Homo sapiens: one gene and its partner. The protein of the gene in region 1 interacts with the protein of each later gene in a pairwise test. Each region holds a gene or a part of one and is shown in the gene's direction. Other genes may lie near its edges. The genes, in order: NANOGNB and SOX4.

Evidence for each region.
Region 2: the proteins of NANOGNB (region 1) and SOX4 interact in a two-hybrid assay, tested with the Homo sapiens proteins (one study listed by BioGRID).

The regions. Positions count from the first base shown.
Region 1 is NC_000012.12:7,760,264-7,769,792, forward strand, and holds the start of NANOGNB (NANOG neighbor homeobox), read left to right. Parts: upstream 1-4,952; 5' UTR 4,953-5,022; coding exon 5,023-5,124; intron 5,125-9,529.
Region 2 is NC_000006.12:21,587,607-21,597,529, forward strand, and holds the start of SOX4 (transcription factor SOX-4), read left to right. Parts: upstream 1-6,144; 5' UTR 6,145-6,928; coding exon 6,929-8,353; 3' UTR 8,354-9,923. UniProt on the Homo sapiens protein: Transcriptional activator that binds with high affinity to the T-cell enhancer motif 5'-AACAAAG-3' motif. Required for IL17A-producing Vgamma2-positive gamma-delta T-cell maturation and development, via binding to regulator loci of RORC to modulate expression.

The DNA.
Region 1 (9,529 bases):
TGGGTCAGGTCCTTCTTCCATTTGAGATTTGAAACCAAACAGCTTTGTTCCTTTTTAGTTTTTGCCACTTTCTAAGCTGTGTACCTAAGACATGTCACTTACCCTCTCAAAGTGTCAGCTGGTTTATACACAAAACGGGGGAATATGTGATGTAGCTATCATCATAGGCCTGAAATGTCCATTTCAGTTCTTACTAGTCTAAGCCTTCTCTAGCCTCTGCTCCATATTCTCTGCCAAGGGTTAAATCTCTATTTTCTTTTTTTTTCTTTTTGAGATGGAGTCTCACTCTGTCGCCCAGGCTGGAGTACAGTGGCGCGATCTCGGCTCACTGCAAGCTCTGCCTCCCAGATTTACACCATTCTCCTGCCTCAGCCTCCCAAGTAGCTGGGACTACAGACACCCACCACCACGCTCGGCTAATTTTTTGTATTTTTAGTGGAGACGGGGTTTCACCGTGTTAGCCAGGATGGTTTCAAACTTCTGACCTCGTGATCCGCCCATCTCGGCCTCCCAAAGTGCTGGGATTACAGGCGTGAGCCACCACACCTGCCCAAATCTCTATTTTCATAAGATGCATCTGCAAGGGAATAAAATACTCATCAGAGCCTAATTGCTTTTGGATAAGGTGAACTTGGAAGGGTTAGAACAGGAGCATATTATTCTCTGTCGATAACTGTCCCTTTAACCTGTTCTGTTGACTTGCCTTGCCCTGACCCCAGAGGAAATCTCAAGCAGATCCCAGAGCCTTTCCAGTCTCTCTTGCTTCCTAACAAATAATTACCTTTATTTAGGTATTTAAAAATCCATTCTCAGCCGGGCACAGTGGCTAATGCCTGTAATCCCAGCACTTTGGGAGGCCGAGGCAGGAGGATCTCTCTCTCTCTTTTTTGGGGGGACGGGGGGCGGGAATGGAGCTTCCCTCTTGTTGCCCAGGCTGTAGTGCAGTGGCGCGATCTCAGCTCACTGCAACCTCTGCCTCCCAGGTTCAAGCCATTCTCCTGCCTCAGTCTCCCAAGTAGCTGGGATTACAGGCATGAGCCACCAAGCCAGGTCTCTGTTTCTTTTTTTTTTTTTTTTCTTTTTATTTGAGACGGAGTCTCACTCTGTCGCCCAGGCTGGGGCACAGTGGCGCGATCGAGGCTCACTGCAAGCTCCACCTCCTGAGTTCACGCCATTCTCCTGCCTCAGCCTCCCCAGTAGCTGGGACTACAGGCGCCTGCCACCATGCCTGGCTAATTTTTTTGTATTTTTAGTAGAGACGGGATTTCACCATGTTACCCAGCCTGGTCTCGAACTCCTAATCTCAGGTGATCCACCCACCTCAGCCTCCCAAAGTGCTAGGATTACAGGTGTGAGCCACCGAGCCCAGATTTCTCTGTTGCTTTTTTTTTTTTTTTTAGAGAGGGAGTCTCGCTTTGCCGCCCAGGCTGGAGTGCAGTGGCATGATCTCGGCTCACTGCAAGCTCCGCCTCCCAGGTTCACGCCATTCTCCTGCCTCAGCCTCCCGAGTAGCTTGGACTACAGGCACCCACCACCACGCCCGGCTAATTTTTTGTATTTTTTAGTAGAGACGGGGTTTCACCGTGTTAGCCAGGATGGTCTCGATCTCCTGACCTTGTGATCTGCCCACCTCGGCCTCCCAAAGTGCTGGGATTACAGGCGTAAGCCACCGCGCCCGGCTTTTTTTTTTTTTTTTTTTGTATTTTTTAGTAGAGACTGGGTTTCACCGTGTTAGCCAGGATGGTCTTGATCTCCTGACCTCATGATCCACCCGCCTCGGCCTCCCAAAGTGCTGGCATTACATGCATGAGCCACCATGCCCAGCCCTTTTTTTTTTTTTTTTAAGACAGAGTCTTGCTCTGTCGCCCAGGCTGGAGTGCAGTGGCCGGATCTTGGCTAATTGCAACCTCCACCTCCCAGGTACCAGCAATTCTCCTGACTCAGCCTCCTGAGTAGCTGGGACTACAGTTGCGTGCCACCACACCCAACTAATTTTTTTTTTTTGGAGATGTACTCTTGCTCTGTCACCCAGGCTGGAGTACAGTGGCACAATCTTGGCTTACTGTAATCTCTGCCTCCCAGGTTCAAGAGATTCTCCTTCCTCAGCTCCTAAGTAGCTGGGATTACAGGCATGCGACACCACACTCTGCTAATTTTTTTGTGTTTTTAATAGAGACGGGGTTTCACCATGTTTGTCAGGCTGGTCTCGAACTCCTGACCTGATGATCCACCTGCCTCGGCCTCCCAAAGTGCTGAAATTACAGGCGTGAGCCACTGTGCCCAGCCTAATTTTCGTATTTTTTAGTAAAGACAGGGTTTCACCATGTTGGCCAGGCTGGTCTTGAACTCCTGACCTCGTCATCTACCTGCCTCGGCCTCTGAAAGTGCTGGGATTACAGGCGTGAGCCACCGCACCCGGCCTTCTCTGTTGCTTTTGAAGATCTCTTCCCTATGAGTGCCTATTCCCCGAATTTGCTTTTTGGGAACTTATCTCTTACAGCTGGCCTGTGGAACTCCCTCCTCAGCCCCCAGCTTCTGATGTCCGTGTTCCTTTCAAGAGGAGCTGCTAGGATGGAAGACCTGTAAGGCCATAGGCAGCAACTCTAATGTGCCCAGGACAGCTCAAAAGCAGCCCCTATCAAATGTTTACTCCCCTAGCTTACCTGCATCTGAGGGGACTACCAGCGACCATGACGAACAGAGACCTCCTGTCCACATTTAGCCACCGTGGACAGCTCCTGATTGCCTCTCACTTTTCAACATTGTCATGCTTGAGTCAGGTGTCGGATCCTGGGTATCCCCAAACACAAAAGTCAAACTTTGAGTGATTTTTTTTTTTTTTTTTTTTGAGACAGAGTCTTGCTCTGTCACCCAGGCTGGAGTGCTGTCGCGTGATCTCAGCTCACTGCAACCTTCACCTCCTAGATTCAAGCAATTCTCTTGCCTTAGCCTCTGGAGTAGCTGGGATTACGGGGTGTGCCACCACGCCAAGCTAATTTTTGTATTTTTAGTAGAGATGTGATTCCACCATGTTGGCCAGGCTGGTCTCGAACTCCAGACCTCAAATGATCCGCCTGCCTCAGCCTCCCAAAGTGCTGGGATTACAAGCATGAGCCACCGCACTCGGTCTTCAGTGATTCTTTAAAATTCTCTTCTCTGCCGGGCGCGGTGGCTCACGCCTGTAATCCCAGCACTTTCGGAGGCTGAGGCAGACGGATCACGAGGTCAGGAGATTGAGACCATCCTGGCTAACATGGTGAAACCCCGTCTCTACTAAAACTACAAAAAATTATTAGCCGGGCGTGGTGGCGGGCGCCTGTAGTTCCAGCTACTTGGGAGGATGAGGCAGGAGAATGGTGTGAACCCGGGAGGCGGAGCTTGCAGTGAGCCAAGATCATGCCACTGCACTCCAGCCTGGGTGACAGAGCAAGACTCCGTCTCAAAAATAAATAAATAAATAAATGAAATGAAATAAAATAAAATAAAATTCTCTTCTCTTAGCTGAGATTAACGAAGTGGTTAACAAGTGGTTAACAAGTGGTTTCTTCTACCAGAGTGTGAGGCTGGTTGTGTGACCAGGTAAGAGTATAGTCGGAGGCCAGGCACGATGGTTCATGCCTATGATCCCAGTACTTTGGGAGGCCAAGGCAGGCAGATCGCTTGAGGTCAGGAATTCCAAACCAGCCTGGCCAACATGGAGAAACCCTCATCTCTCCTAAAAATACAAAAAATTAGCTGGGCATAGTGGCACTTGGTTGTAATCCCAGCTACTTGGAGCTGAGGTAGGAGAATCACTTGAAACTGGGAGGTGGAGGTTGCAGTGAGCCGAGATCACACAAGTGCACTCCAGCCTGGTGACAGAGTAAGACTCTGTCTCAAAAATAAATAAATAAATAAATAAATAAATAAATAAATAAATAAATAAAATGGGCTGGGCAGCGGTGGCTCACACCTGTAATCCCAGCACTTTGGGAGGCCAAGGCAGGAAGATCACCTCATGTCAGGAATTCGAGGCCAGCCTGGCCAACATGGTGAAACCCTGTCTCCACTAAAAATACAAAAATTACCCGGGCGTGGTGGCAGGTGCCTGTAATCCCAGCTACTCGGGAAGCTGAGGCAGGAGAATCGCTTGAACCTGGGAGGCGGAGGTTGCAGTGAGCCAAGATTGCACCATTGCACTCCAGCCTGGGGGACAAGAAAGGAGACTTCGTCTCAAAAATTAAAATAATAATAATAATAATAATAATAATAATAATAATAATAATGGAATCAGGGGTCTCACCGTGATGCCCAAGCTGTTCTTGAACTCCTGAGCTCAAACAATTCTTCTGCCTTGGCCTTCCAAAATACTAGGATTACAGATGTGAGACACCTCACCCGACCAAGTAGCATTTTCATAAAATATTTATGTATTTATTTATTTTTAACATGGAGTCTCACTGTCTGTCCCCGAATGGAGTGCAGTGGCAGTATCTTGGCTCACTGCAACCTCTGCCTCTTAGGTTCAAGCGATTCTCCTGCCTCAGCCTCCAAGTAGCTGGGATCACAAGCACGTACTTCTACACAAGCTAAGTTTTGTATTTTTAGTAGAGATGGAGTTTTACCATGTTGGTCAGGCTGGTCTTGAACTTCTGATCTTAAATGATCTGCCCGCCTTGACCTCCCAAAGTGCTAGGATTACAGGCATGAGCCACCACGCCCAGCCCTACATTTTTTTTTTCCTGTCTCTCCACTGTATTTTGGAAAGCATTTTCTTATCAGTATATCTCACTATTTGGGACACTCTGCAACATGTAAATTGAACATTTTTCATATGGCTATTTGAAAAGTTTTTTTTCTTCATGGCTCCAAAAATAGATGTCAGGAAATGTGTTCTTTTTGTGGAATTCCTTTTGTGAATTGCCACTGGGTGCTCATATTTGTGGCCCACTGACATCCAAAAGATGGATGACATCTACCTTATCTGGTCGGTCATCTCTGTAACCTCCCTACCAAGGACTAATTGGTCTTTAAAACTCCTCAATGCACCGGGCGCGGTGGCTCACGCCTGTAATCCCAGCACTTTGGGAGGCCGAGGCGGGCAGATCACGAGGTCAGGAAATCGAGACCATCTTGGCTAACAAGGTAAAACCCCGTTTCTACTAAAAATACAAAAAATTAGCTGGGCGTGGTGGCGGGCGCCTGTAGTCCTAGCTACTCTGGAGGCTGAGGCGGGAGAATGGCGTGAACCCGGGAGGCGGAGCTTGCAGTGAGCCGAGATCGCGCCACTGCACTCCAGCCTGGGCGACAGAGTGAGACTCCGTCTCAAAAAAAAAAAAAAAAAAAAGAAGTGGCAGTTGTCTGGATATATTTTAAAGAAAGAAAAGCAAGACTTTCTGACAGATTGAGTTGAGCTATGAGAAAGGGAAGAAGTGAAAGACAGCACCAAGCTTTTTGACTCAAACCACTGGGCAGATGGAGTTGGCTTTACTAAGATAGAGAGGCCTGAGTGGGTCAGCGTTCAGTGAAGGGAGCCATAAACTGAGTTTGGGAATTTTAAGTTCAATTCACATAACTTATTAGACATCCAAGCAGAGATATTGAATTGGGAGTTTGACATAGAAGACTGGAAATAAAAATTTGAAAATAATCTCCCTTTTGGGCAGTATTAAAAACCATGAGATTAGATGACCTGGATTAGAGCTACATGTAAAGGAGATAAGAGGTGAAGGGATTTAACCTTGAGTGTGATTGAAAAAGCACAGGGACAGAAATCAGTAGGGGAAAGAGGAGCAACAAAGAAAGCTTTGAAAGAGCAGCCATTGACTTGAGGAAGCCCCAGGAAAGGATGGTGTTCAGGAAGTGGGAGAATAAACTCTTTCAATGTGGAGAGAGATCCCGATACTTCAGAAGCCCCTGATCATTCAAGTAAGTAAGATGGGGACAGGCCAGGCACAGTGGCTCACACCTCAAATCCCAGCACTTTGGGAGGCCAAGCGGGGCAGATCGCTTGAGCTCAGGAGTTGAAGACCATCCTGGCCAAGATGATGAAACCCCCCATCTCCACCAAAAATACAACAATTAGCCGGGCTTGGTGAGGCACGCCTGTAGTCCCAGCTACTCAGGAGGCTGAGGCAAGAGAATCCTTCGAGCCCAGAAGGCAGAGGTTGTGGTGAGCTGAGATCCAGCCACTGCACTCCAGTCTGGGCTTCAGAGTGAGACTCCGTCTCAACAAAACAAAACAGCAAACAAACAAAACAAAACAAACCCACTATCTCACCACCACGATACCCTTAAAAGAAAATGGGGATGGGAAATTGGCCATTTGATTTCTTTTCTTTTGTTTTTGTTTCTTGAGTCACAGTCTTGTTCTGTTGCCCAGGCTGGAGTGGCACAATCTCAACTAACTGCGACCTCCCCCTCCCGGGGTTCAAAAGACATGTCCGATTAGTTTTTTGTATTTTTAATAGAGACGGGGTTTCACCATGTTGGCCAGGCTGGTCCTGAACTCCTGACCTCAAGTGGTCCACCCACTTCGGCCTCCCAAAGTGCTGCGATTACAGGAGTGACCCTCCACGCCTGGCCTTTGTTTTGTTGTTGTTTGTTTGTTTGTTTTGAGACTGAGTTTTGCTCTGTTGCCCAGGCTGGAGCACAGTGGGGCGATCTCAGCTCACTGCAATCTTTGCCTCCCGGGTTCAAGCGATTCTCCTGCCTCAACTTCTCAAGTAGCTGGGACTACAGGCGTGCGCCACCAAGCCTAGCTAATTTTTGTATTTTTAGTAGAGACAGGGTTTCACCATGTTGGCCAAGCTGGTCTCAAACTCCTGGCCTCAGGTGATCTGCCTGCCTTGGCTTCCCAAAATGCTGGGATTACAGGCGGGAACCACCGTGCCTGGCAGCCATTTTACTTTTTTTGCAATGTCAGGGTCATTAATGTCTGACTCTGAAGAGGAATGTGTGGAAGTGGATGTGAAAGCCTGATTGGAGAATATTCAAGAGAGAATGAGGGGAGAAAAATCACCAACAGGCAAAGAACACATACAGAGAACTCTTTAAAATTTTCTTACACTTTATCACATTCTGTAAAAGAAATTGAGAAGAGGAGTGGTAGCAATAGAAGGATGTGGGTTACAAGAGGGTTTTTTTTTTTTTTTTCTAACAAAAGAAAACTTGTGGCCTGGTGTGGTGGCTCACGCCTGTAATCCCAGCACTTTGGAATGCCAAGGCGGACAGATCACTGAAGCTGACGATTTCGAGACCAACAACAGCACAGTTAGCTGCCATCCCACCTCACCCACTGCCGTCTCTTAAAAATAAATACATTATTTTTTTAAAAGAAAATGTATACCAATTAGCAGACACTCCGAATTTTATCCCACCCTCATCTCTGATAATCACTAATTTACTTTCTGTCTCTATAGGTTTGCCTATGCTGGACATTTCATATAAACAGAATCATACAATATATGACTTTTTGTATTTCAACTTTCACTTAACTTGCTTTCCTTTTTCCTCTTTTTTTTTTTTTTTTTCCGGTGTGGCAGGGTCTTGCTCTGTCACCCAGGTGGGAGTGCAGTGTCATGATCAGGACTCACTGCAGCCTTGACCTCCTGGACTCAAGTGATCCTCTCACCTCATTTTTTTATTTTTTGCGGAGAGGAGACCTCACTCTGTTGCCCAGGCTGGTTTTGAACTCCTGGGCTCAAGCAGTCCTCTCGCCTCGGCCTCCCAAAGTGCTGGGATTACAGGCGTGAGTCACCACATCCAGCCCCCGCTTAGCTTGTTTTCAATATTCATCCATGTTGAGCATGAATCAGTATTTTATTTCCTTTTGTGGCTAAATAATAGTCTATTGTATAGATATAATACATTTTGTTTAAAGGGGCAATTGCTGGGTCATATGGTAACTTTAAATTTTAGAGAAACGGTCTTTTTCTGCCTCTATTGAGATGATTGCATGTTTTTTTCCTTTATTCTATTCATATGATGTATTACATTGATTTTCCTATTTTGAACTAATCACATATTTCTAGAATAAATCCTACTTGGTTATGGTGCATAATCGTTTTACTGTGTTGCTGGATTTAGGATTGCTAGCATTTTGTTGAAGTTTTTGCCTCCATATTCATAATGGACATTAATCTATAGTTTTTTAGGGGTGATATCTGTCTGGTTTGAGTATCAGTGTGATGGTCTTTAATGTGGCAACTTGGGTAGGCTATAGACCCCAGTTATTCAATCAAACACTAGGTGCCACTGGCATATTTCTTTTCTTTCTTTCTTTTTTTTTTTTGAGAGGGATTCTCGCTCTGTCATCCAGGCTGCAGTCCAGTGGCACGATGTCAGCTGGCAGGATGTCAGCTCACTGCAAGCTCCGCCTCCCTGGTTCTTGCCATTCTCCTGCCTCAGCCTCCGGAGTAGCTGGGACTACAGGCACCCGCCGCCATGCCCCGCTAATTTTTTGTATTTTTAGTAGAGACCGGGTTTCACTGTGTTAGCCAGGATGGTCTCAATCTCCTGACCTCGTGATCTGCCCGCCTCAGCCTCCCAAAGTGCTGGGATTACAGGCGTGAGCCACCGCGCCCGGCCGGCATATTTCTTTTCTTTTGAGACAGAGTCTTGCTCTGTCACCCAGGCTGGAGTGCAGTGGCTGGGCTGGGATTATAGGCATGAGCCACCACGCCGGGCCTTGTTACTGGCATTTTTAGATGTAATTAAAATCCATATTAATCGTCTTCAAGTAAAAGGGATTATAATCTGAGAAAGCCTAATCCAATCAGTTAAGGCTTTAAGAGGAAATTCTGCCTAGGGAGAGCAGCTCCATCGCACACTGAAGGGTTCCAGCCATCCTTTCGGACTTGCCAAGACAGTTCCAAGATTGCGTAAGACAATTCCCTGCAATGAATTTCTTCTTATTTTTATTTTTATTTTTTTTGAGACAGAGTCTGGCCCTGTTGCCCAGGCTAGAGTGCAATGGTGCGATATCGGCTTACTGCAACCTCCACCCACCGGGTTCAAGCAATTCTCCTGCCTCAGCCTCCCAAGTAGCTGGGATTATATGTGCCTGCCACCATGCCTGGCAAATTTTTTTTTTTTTTTGAGATGCAGTCTCACTCTGTTGCCAGGCTGGAGTGCAGTGGTGCAACCTCAGCCCACTGCAACCTCTGCCTCCTGGGTTCAAGCAATTTTCCTGCCTCAGCCTCCCAAGTAGCTGGAACTACAGGTGCATGCCACCACACCCAGCTAATTTTTGTATTTTTAGTAGAGATGGGGTTTCACCATATTGGCCAGGCTTGTCTCGATCTCCTGACCTTAGGTGATCCACCCACCTCGGCCTCCCAAAGTGCTGGGATTACAGGCGTGAGCCACCACCTCCCGGGTTAAAGTGATCCTCCTGCCTCAGCCTCCCGAGTAGCATGGGGCTACGGGCACGTGCCACCATGCCCGGCTAATGTTTGTATTTTTAGTAGAGACGGGGTTTCACCATGTTAGCCAAGATGGTCTCAATCTCTGGACCTCATGATCTGCCCGCCTCAGCCTCCGAAAGTGC
Region 2 (9,923 bases), on another chromosome or scaffold:
CTGTAATTGCAACAACGGGCTGTTGCGTTGGGGGTGGGAAGCCCGTCGGGCGTGCCCCACCTAGACCGCCTGCTGGGGCCACTGGGGTGGTTTTGCCGCCCCCTCAACCCCTGCCACCCCGGGTCGAGTAGGCAGCTCCACCCGGACGCTTGCGCCAGGGCCTGACTGCCGCGGCTGCCAGCGGAAAGGCAGAGACCAGCTGATCCAAGGAGGACAAAGCGAGCCGAGACCTTCCGCAGAGCTTGGCTTCCTCGTAACTGCGCCCAGGGCGCAGCCTCTCCCTGTTAACTACCTGCCATATGTTCCCTTCTCTCAGACCCGAAACCGCCTCCTACAGGTGCTGGGGACTGAATCTGGAGCTTCGGGCGCGGCCCTTGACAAGGGCGCCTGGCACCCTGGGGCGCCTCCGTGGCCCTCGCAAACTCAGAGAGCCCCCACCGTCCAGTCTTTCCTGCACGAGCGAGGGATCGAGGGAAGGCGCCAATGCACGTCTGTCCCTCCGTGATCCGCGCAGAAGGGACGCTTGAAGACTGGGGTGCAATGAATTGTCGACTTCCCTCAGCTCTCAGCCCTTTTCCTCCCCCCGCGCGCCGTGCACGCGCAGCCTGCTCTGCCCTTCTGAAAGAGACGCTGCAGCTGCGCTCTCAATGGGGCCTCAGCCTGCGGGGTCCGGGGAGGGGATGAAGTGGGTGGTTGCCCAGCCGGTGTACGAAGGTCGTGTGCCTGCCGAAGAGTGGGTCCCACACGCACAGCGCGCGCCGTACCAACCAAGCAAGGCTCACAGAGAGCATTTAGTCGTCCAGAGCAAAGGATGCTGGGCACTCAAGAGAGCAGGGGGCCAAGTGGCTGTCAGTTCTGGTCAGTGACGGAACTGGACAGCATCTCCAAGGGCCAGGGGATGGGGTAGGAGGACGGAGGAGCCAAGCTCCTGGGAAACGACCCCCCCAACCTATCCGCGACCGGTTGCAAATTCAAAGGAGGGCTGGGAGCCCGCGAGGGTGCGGGAGGTGTCCTCGCTTGGGCTGCGTCTGCGCCCGCGTTTGTGTGTGTGTGCGCGCGCGTGTCTTCAGCTCCTTCCCCGGTCGTAAAACCTAAACGGAAGACGGGTGTTAAAATGCTGCTGACAGGATCGCCTGAAACATGTTTACAGTAGGAAGGACTTTCCTCCAGAAAGCACAGTCTGAGTCGATTCCAATTTATTTCCTCCCTGTAACTGTAAGCGAAAGGAGAGGTTCGGCTGCCGCGGCGGAGCGAGGCTGAGCACCATTAATCCTTGGCGAGCTTAAGCCAGGGAGAGCGCCGTGCCTGCGAGACCGAGTCGCTGCGCTCCGGAAGGCGTTCTGCCTGAAGGAAACCTCTTTTTTTTTTTTTTTTTTTTTTTTTTTTTTTGAGTAGGGAGTGGCCTTTGCACTGGAGTCCTTAAGTAAGGCGCGTCGTTTCTCTGCAGCCGCTCTCGGAAGCCGGAGAAACTGCATTCACTTTAGCAAGAAGACAGGGAAACTGAAATTGATAATCCCCCGAGTTGGGTTACCTGATCCAGACAGGAAGCTGGTCTAGGCTTCCCCCGTCACCCGGAGCTCCTGACAAGTGAGCAGGAGGCGGCGGGTGGTTGCCCTAAACTTTGATTTATGAAAAAAAATCAGAATTCATCGACATACCCTGTTACTCGTTGAGCGTTTAAGCCTCTAACTAAAGAAGGTACAGTGGTAGGGAGTGGTAGGGGGGTCGGGAGAGGAGGAAGGGGGAGAAGAAAGAAGACTGACTATCCCCACGATTTCCTACCTCGCCTCGCGGGCGCAGGGAGGCTCAGCGATGCCACCTGGCGGCTGCTTCTCCCCAGATTGGGAGCCGGCTGGCTGCAGACAAACCCAGGCTCTCCCCGGGTGCCGTGCCTCTGCCTCTAGAATAGAAGCAGAAGCCTGTATTCATGCTTGCAATCCAAGTGGCCCTGCAAACATTCGTCTTCTGCTTGTTTTCTTGAGAAAATCGAAGGAAAGGAATAATGAGTTGGCATTGGCATGAACAGCTTAAGCCTACTGTGTGCTAGTCACTGGTTATGAGAGGAAAATGGTACAATTGTTAGAAATGCAGGTTTCTTAACTCTTAGCTTATTCTAGTGATAAAAATAAATGCTAGGTTTCATTTACCCCAGAATCCTATTTTGATATTTTGCAAATATGAGTTATTTCCATATATTATTTTTCAATGCACGCACCCCCACCCCCATTACGCGCTGAGCCCAGTTACAATGCAATGTCATCAGCCCAAAAGGATGAAGTGCAAGTTATGTTTGTCTACTTGACTGAGAAGTAAATCAGCCTCACATGGAGGCTTCTTTTCCATAAAGTGTGGAACCAAAAAAACTGGCGCCTTTCAGTTGACAAAGGCCAATGACATCAGATTTCCCAGGGCTTCTTCCTTGTCAGGTAAAGTAACAACTACACAGTTTTTCCTCCTCTTTATTTTATTTGAACTGAATACTTGTCAGGTCTGACTAGCGCCTACAATCATAGTTTCTATAACCAAGGCAAGGCAAAATCTTGCAAATCAGTGCAAATCCAGATTTGTTAAACTAATTTCCATTCAGGTCCCTCCCTCCATGCCAAAGGAATATATTAAGCAGTGGAATAGAATCTTATTTCATCTATGCCCCATACCATTGTATGGATGTGAGATTTTATGTTGTGTAGATGTGTGAGAGCAGAAGAAATGCATTAGCAGATATTACACTTACATCTCAAATGGAATTCCATCATTTAAGGGAATAAAATAAAATACCTAATTCAAAATTGGAAATGTCTAACATCATTGCTAACAAAGACAGTTTATTATTCTAAACCAGGATTTTTTTTTTCTGCAAAATTATCTTGGCTTTCTCTTAATACAGCTAAAAGACTAGCATTAAGAATTACTTCATGTACTGCAAAGCCAGCAGAGGGAACACTGCGTACTGATTTAGTAGGGGCCACCAAATATCTGGTATTTGGGGAAAAAAATGTCAGTAATGGAGAACTGATTACAGAGCATATGAAGTTAGGGAATGAGAAGGGAGAAATCTTTTCTCATTATTTGGTATTGAGAGGTCCAACACATTCCAGTGTGCACACACTTAGTTGGTCACAAAGATGACTTTAATAAAAGGGCATTCGTCATATGTTTTCTTACATTCTAAGAGAACTAACCCATTAGAACAGATCTATTTCAGAAGTCTAGGCACTTGTGTAATATATAAATATATATGCAGTAATTATAAAGTCAATGGAAGTTACTGATACCATATTTCATCAAGTCTAAGAGGAAATTTTTCTTTTCATTTCAACTCTTCCTGAAATAAGGAGGCATCCTACATCTAGGGGGATATCACAGTTTCATTGGCAGCTTTCTTCCTTGGTGGAATGTAATATAATGGTGTGTCTTAAAATTTGTTGGATTTGTTGAAATACAGAAAATACATGTAACAAAAGAATGAGGCCAGTGGCTGTGTTTTAGTACACCCTTTAAAAAATCCATGTGTTTTAAGCAGAAACATATATGACTGCTTTAACTTCCACTCTTCCCTATCATATTCGATGATGGAAGCATAAATGACTGAGAAATATAATCAATAATGTTGATACTCAACTTGACTGAATTATCAAACTAGCTACACCCTCAAATCATTAGTTAGTACAAATTCAAAAATAAATATTCTTTTTTATTCTAGTGAAAATATTGATCTTATAGATAATAGCCCTCTTAAAATAATTTTTTTTTGTCAGATTGGTAACATTTAAGGATGTGTTTCTATGCACACCAGAGAAAATGTAGTATATAACACAGCAACACTGTTATGCAAAAAAGGTGCCTGTGTGTTTTTGGTTTGGGTTTTTCTTTTTTTAAGGATTTGTTTCTCCTTTTTTAAAAAAATTATGTAATACAAGTAGCTAATCGTCAAAAATTATTTGCTTTTACCCACAAAAACAGTTTTGCTTGTGGTTGATCCTTACAGATCCAGTCAGATGGCTACATAGGGTGTTCTTTCCAGTAAAATTCTAAGTCTGACAACCTGGGCCTATTGCCAGCCTACATACTTTAAAAGTTTGACAAGATACATAGAAATTTACTACCCAGCACTAGTTTAATCTGAATCAAAAGCCGACTTAATTATTTTGGATTGACTTTACCTAACCACTTATGGTTAGCCTGAAGAATATTAGTTTCCTATTATAGTGTTAAGGAAAGCTGATTTTTACTACAATTCTAATTTTCAGACACTGGAAAACAAGTAATTTCTGTAGCCAACGTTTATTTTGAATACCTTGGCATCCTTTCTTTGCCACATTCTTCTTAGTATTCTTCATGGAGTTCCTTTCTTTTAAAATCAATGGAATGGCAGGGTTGCCACTATTGTCCTTCTATGGTTCACATCAATGATCTGTGATTACTTTTTTTTTTTTTTTGAGATAGTCACACGCTATCACCCACACTGGAGTGCAGTGGCTCAATCTTAGCTCACTGCAACCTCCTGGGTTCAAGCAATTCTCCCGCCTTAGCTTCTCGAGTAGCTGGAATTACAGGCGCATGCATCCCTGCCCAGCTAATTTTTTAATTTTTTAATTTTTAGTAGAGACAGGGTTTCACCATGTTGACCAGGCTGGTCTCGAACTCCTGACCTGAAGTGATCCACCCACCTTAGCCTCCCAAAGTGCTGGGATTACAGGCGTGAGCCACCGCGTCCTGCCTGTTATTACTTTTTTACATAAGTGGCTATTCTGTTTTAGCCTCTTGAACAACATGCAGCTTTTACTAGGAGTGTGTCTGGCATTTGAATTAGAAAGGAAGATATTAGTATTCATTGAGGGCTTACAATACATCAGGTGCTTCATAGTCACAAATTCATTGAACCCTCACAACAACCCTCTATAAAGTAGCTCCTAGTGTTCCCATATAATAGATGAGGAAAACTGAGACTTGGCCACATCCCCATAGTTACAAACCATTAAGAAGGATTAGCAGCCAGGTCTACTATGAATCCGGAGGCCCCATTCTCTTCTGCTACCAGTTATCACCTCCTTCTACAGTTTCTCTTTGCCTTGGTTTTTCAGTTCCCTTCGATTCAAGTAACAAGAGGAAATATATAAGAAGGAAAGGAGGAAGATGGCTTTGGGAGGAGGAGAGGGAAGAGAGTGAAGCAATCTTTAATTTTGAAAACAGGGAAAACAAATATTTAGAAAGTAAAACCGATTTCCATCCTTTACATGCCATTATACATCCTATACAAAACTCTGGAAATCTGCCTATTGAGGTAATTACGGAGCACTACCTAATGTGTTTCAAGGGAAAGCTCCCCTGTTTGGGCTATGCAGGATTTACAGGGAGTTTAAATCATTAAATAACCATAGTTGACCCTTGCTTGGTTAAGAGAGTAAGCAATTATTGCAAAGTCCTCTTCCCTGCCTTCCACAAACAGCACAAAAACGGTTCTGAAGGGATTTACACAATACATCAACATCTGTGCTGTACCTAGAGTTGTTAAAATAATTGTGATGACAGGTGTCTAGGTACCACTTTCTTAATGGTTTTCAATATCCATTGATTTATTGTTTTGTGGCTTTCTCTTCCCCTTTACAGCTTTGGCTTTAAGAAAGAGCTGGGGAACAGATTTTGCACCAGAGGCTGATTCTTTATTCCAATGCTGAAAAGAACTAATAAAAATAATCACTTGGCTTTTAAGCAGAAAGCTTCCATTTACAGTATTTCACCCTTACCCCGCCCCGTTCCAAGCCCCTTGTTATCTAACATAATGGTTAGAATACATTTCCGTCTCTCCCCTTAATAATTTCATGCATTAACATCCTCTTCACACACTATACACACACGCACGCGCGCACACACACGCGCGCGCACACACACAGCAAAAGGAAAAAAGAGGCAGCAGAAATCTCAGCTGTACTTCTAGCCCTTTTAAAAAGTTTGCTCTGTAAATTGGAATGAGGTCAGATTTGGAGCTTCTCATTGCACGCGGAGATTATTATTGCATCGGGTTCCAAGCCAATGGGAAGCCCGGGGGAGGGGTTTGGCATGAGGAAGCGTTGGTTACAGCAGCTGATTGGCTGCAGCCAAGACTGTGAAAGGATAAAGAGGCGCGAGGCGGAATTGGGGTCTGCTCTAAGCTGCAGCAAGAGAAACTGTGTGTGAGGGGAAGAGGCCTGTTTCGCTGTCGGGTCTCTAGTTCTTGCACGCTCTTTAAGAGTCTGCACTGGAGGAACTCCTGCCATTACCAGCTCCCTTCTTGCAGAAGGGAGGGGGAAACATACATTTATTCATGCCAGTCTGTTGCATGCAGGCTTTTTGGCTTCCTACCTTGCAACAAAATAATTGCACCAACTCCTTAGTGCCGATTCCGCCCACAGAGAGTCCTGGAGCCACAGTCTTTTTTGCTTTGCATTGTAGGAGAGGGACTAAGTGCTAGAGACTATGTCGCTTTCCTGAGCTACCGAGAGCGCTCGTGAACTGGAATCAACTGCTTCAGGGAAAAAGAAAAAAAAAAAAAAAAGACTTGCCTGGGAGGCCGCGAGAAACTTGCATTGGAAGCTTCAGCAACCAGCATTCGAGAAACTCCTCTCTACTTTAGCACGGTCTCCAGACTCAGCCGAGAGACAGCAAACTGCAGCGCGGTGAGAGAGCGAGAGAGAGGGAGAGAGAGACTCTCCAGCCTGGGAACTATAACTCCTCTGCGAGAGGCGGAGAACTCCTTCCCCAAATCTTTTGGGGACTTTTCTCTCTTTACCCACCTCCGCCCCTGCGAGGAGTTGAGGGGCCAGTTCGGCCGCCGCGCGCGTCTTCCCGTTCGGCGTGTGCTTGGCCCGGGGAACCGGGAGGGCCCGGCGATCGCGCGGCGGCCGCCGCGAGGGTGTGAGCGCGCGTGGGCGCCCGCCGAGCCGAGGCCATGGTGCAGCAAACCAACAATGCCGAGAACACGGAAGCGCTGCTGGCCGGCGAGAGCTCGGACTCGGGCGCCGGCCTCGAGCTGGGAATCGCCTCCTCCCCCACGCCCGGCTCCACCGCCTCCACGGGCGGCAAGGCCGACGACCCGAGCTGGTGCAAGACCCCGAGTGGGCACATCAAGCGACCCATGAACGCCTTCATGGTGTGGTCGCAGATCGAGCGGCGCAAGATCATGGAGCAGTCGCCCGACATGCACAACGCCGAGATCTCCAAGCGGCTGGGCAAACGCTGGAAGCTGCTCAAAGACAGCGACAAGATCCCTTTCATTCGAGAGGCGGAGCGGCTGCGCCTCAAGCACATGGCTGACTACCCCGACTACAAGTACCGGCCCAGGAAGAAGGTGAAGTCCGGCAACGCCAACTCCAGCTCCTCGGCCGCCGCCTCCTCCAAGCCGGGGGAGAAGGGAGACAAGGTCGGTGGCAGTGGCGGGGGCGGCCATGGGGGCGGCGGCGGCGGCGGGAGCAGCAACGCGGGGGGAGGAGGCGGCGGTGCGAGTGGCGGCGGCGCCAACTCCAAACCGGCGCAGAAAAAGAGCTGCGGCTCCAAAGTGGCGGGCGGCGCGGGCGGTGGGGTTAGCAAACCGCACGCCAAGCTCATCCTGGCAGGCGGCGGCGGCGGCGGGAAAGCAGCGGCTGCCGCCGCCGCCTCCTTCGCCGCCGAACAGGCGGGGGCCGCCGCCCTGCTGCCCCTGGGCGCCGCCGCCGACCACCACTCGCTGTACAAGGCGCGGACTCCCAGCGCCTCGGCCTCCGCCTCCTCGGCAGCCTCGGCCTCCGCAGCGCTCGCGGCCCCGGGCAAGCACCTGGCGGAGAAGAAGGTGAAGCGCGTCTACCTGTTCGGCGGCCTGGGCACGTCGTCGTCGCCCGTGGGCGGCGTGGGCGCGGGAGCCGACCCCAGCGACCCCCTGGGCCTGTACGAGGAGGAGGGCGCGGGCTGCTCGCCCGACGCGCCCAGCCTGAGCGGCCGCAGCAGCGCCGCCTCGTCCCCCGCCGCCGGCCGCTCGCCCGCCGACCACCGCGGCTACGCCAGCCTGCGCGCCGCCTCGCCCGCCCCGTCCAGCGCGCCCTCGCACGCGTCCTCCTCGGCCTCGTCCCACTCCTCCTCTTCCTCCTCCTCGGGCTCCTCGTCCTCCGACGACGAGTTCGAAGACGACCTGCTCGACCTGAACCCCAGCTCAAACTTTGAGAGCATGTCCCTGGGCAGCTTCAGTTCGTCGTCGGCGCTCGACCGGGACCTGGATTTTAACTTCGAGCCCGGCTCCGGCTCGCACTTCGAGTTCCCGGACTACTGCACGCCCGAGGTGAGCGAGATGATCTCGGGAGACTGGCTCGAGTCCAGCATCTCCAACCTGGTTTTCACCTACTGAAGGGCGCGCAGGCAGGGAGAAGGGCCGGGGGGGGTAGGAGAGGAGAAAAAAAAAGTGAAAAAAAGAAACGAAAAGGACAGACGAAGAGTTTAAAGAGAAAAGGGAAAAAAGAAAGAAAAAGTAAGCAGGGCTGGCTTCGCCCGCGTTCTCGTCGTCGGATCAAGGAGCGCGGCGGCGTTTTGGACCCGCGCTCCCATCCCCCACCTTCCCGGGCCGGGGACCCACTCTGCCCAGCCGGAGGGACGCGGAGGAGGAAGAGGGTAGACAGGGGCGACCTGTGATTGTTGTTATTGATGTTGTTGTTGATGGCAAAAAAAAAAAAGCGACTTCGAGTTTGCTCCCCTTTGCTTGAAGAGACCCCCTCCCCCTTCCAACGAGCTTCCGGACTTGTCTGCACCCCCAGCAAGAAGGCGAGTTAGTTTTCTAGAGACTTGAAGGAGTCTCCCCCTTCCTGCATCACCACCTTGGTTTTGTTTTATTTTGCTTCTTGGTCAAGAAAGGAGGGGAGAACCCAGCGCACCCCTCCCCCCCTTTTTTTAAACGCGTGATGAAGACAGAAGGCTCCGGGGTGACGAATTTGGCCGATGGCAGATGTTTTGGGGGAACGCCGGGACTGAGAGACTCCACGCAGGCGAATTCCCGTTTGGGGCTTTTTTTTCCTCCCTCTTTTCCCCTTGCCCCCTCTGCAGCCGGAGGAGGAGATGTTGAGGGGAGGAGGCCAGCCAGTGTGACCGGCGCTAGGAAATGACCCGAGAACCCCGTTGGAAGCGCAGCAGCGGGAGCTAGGGGCGGGGGCGGAGGAGGACACGAACTGGAAGGGGGTTCACGGTCAAACTGAAATGGATTTGCACGTTGGGGAGCTGGCGGCGGCGGCTGCTGGGCCTCCGCCTTCTTTTCTACGTGAAATCAGTGAGGTGAGACTTCCCAGACCCCGGAGGCGTGGAGGAGAGGAGACTGTTTGATGTGGTACAGGGGCAGTCAGTGGAGGGCGAGTGGTTTCGGAAAAAAAAAAAGAAAAAAAGAAAAAAAAAGAAAAAAAAAAGATTTTTTTCTTCTCTTAATCGGAATCGTGATGGTGTTGGATTATTTCAATGGTGGGGTTAATATAGCATGTTATCCTGTCTATCTTTTAAAGATTTCTGTATAAGACTGTTGAGCAGTTTTTAAAATAGTGTAGGATAATATAAAAAGCAGATAGATGGCGCTATGTTTGATTCCTACAACGAAATTATCACCAGCTTTTTTTCATTCTTAACTCTTTAAAGGATTCAAACGCAACTCAAATCTGTGCTGGACTTTAAAAAAACAATTCAGGACCAAATTTTTTCTCAGTGTGTGTGTTTATTCCTTATAGGTGTAAATGAGAAGACGTGTTTTTTTCCTTCACCGATGCTCCATCCTCGTATTTCTTTTTCCTTGTAAATGTAATCAGATGCCATTTTATATGTGGACGTATTTATACTGGCCAAACATATTTTTTCTTTTGTCCCTTTTTTTCTTTCCTTTCTTTTTACTTCCTTTATTTCTTTATTCCTTCCTTTTCCTTTTTTTCTTTTTTTTTTCTTTTTTT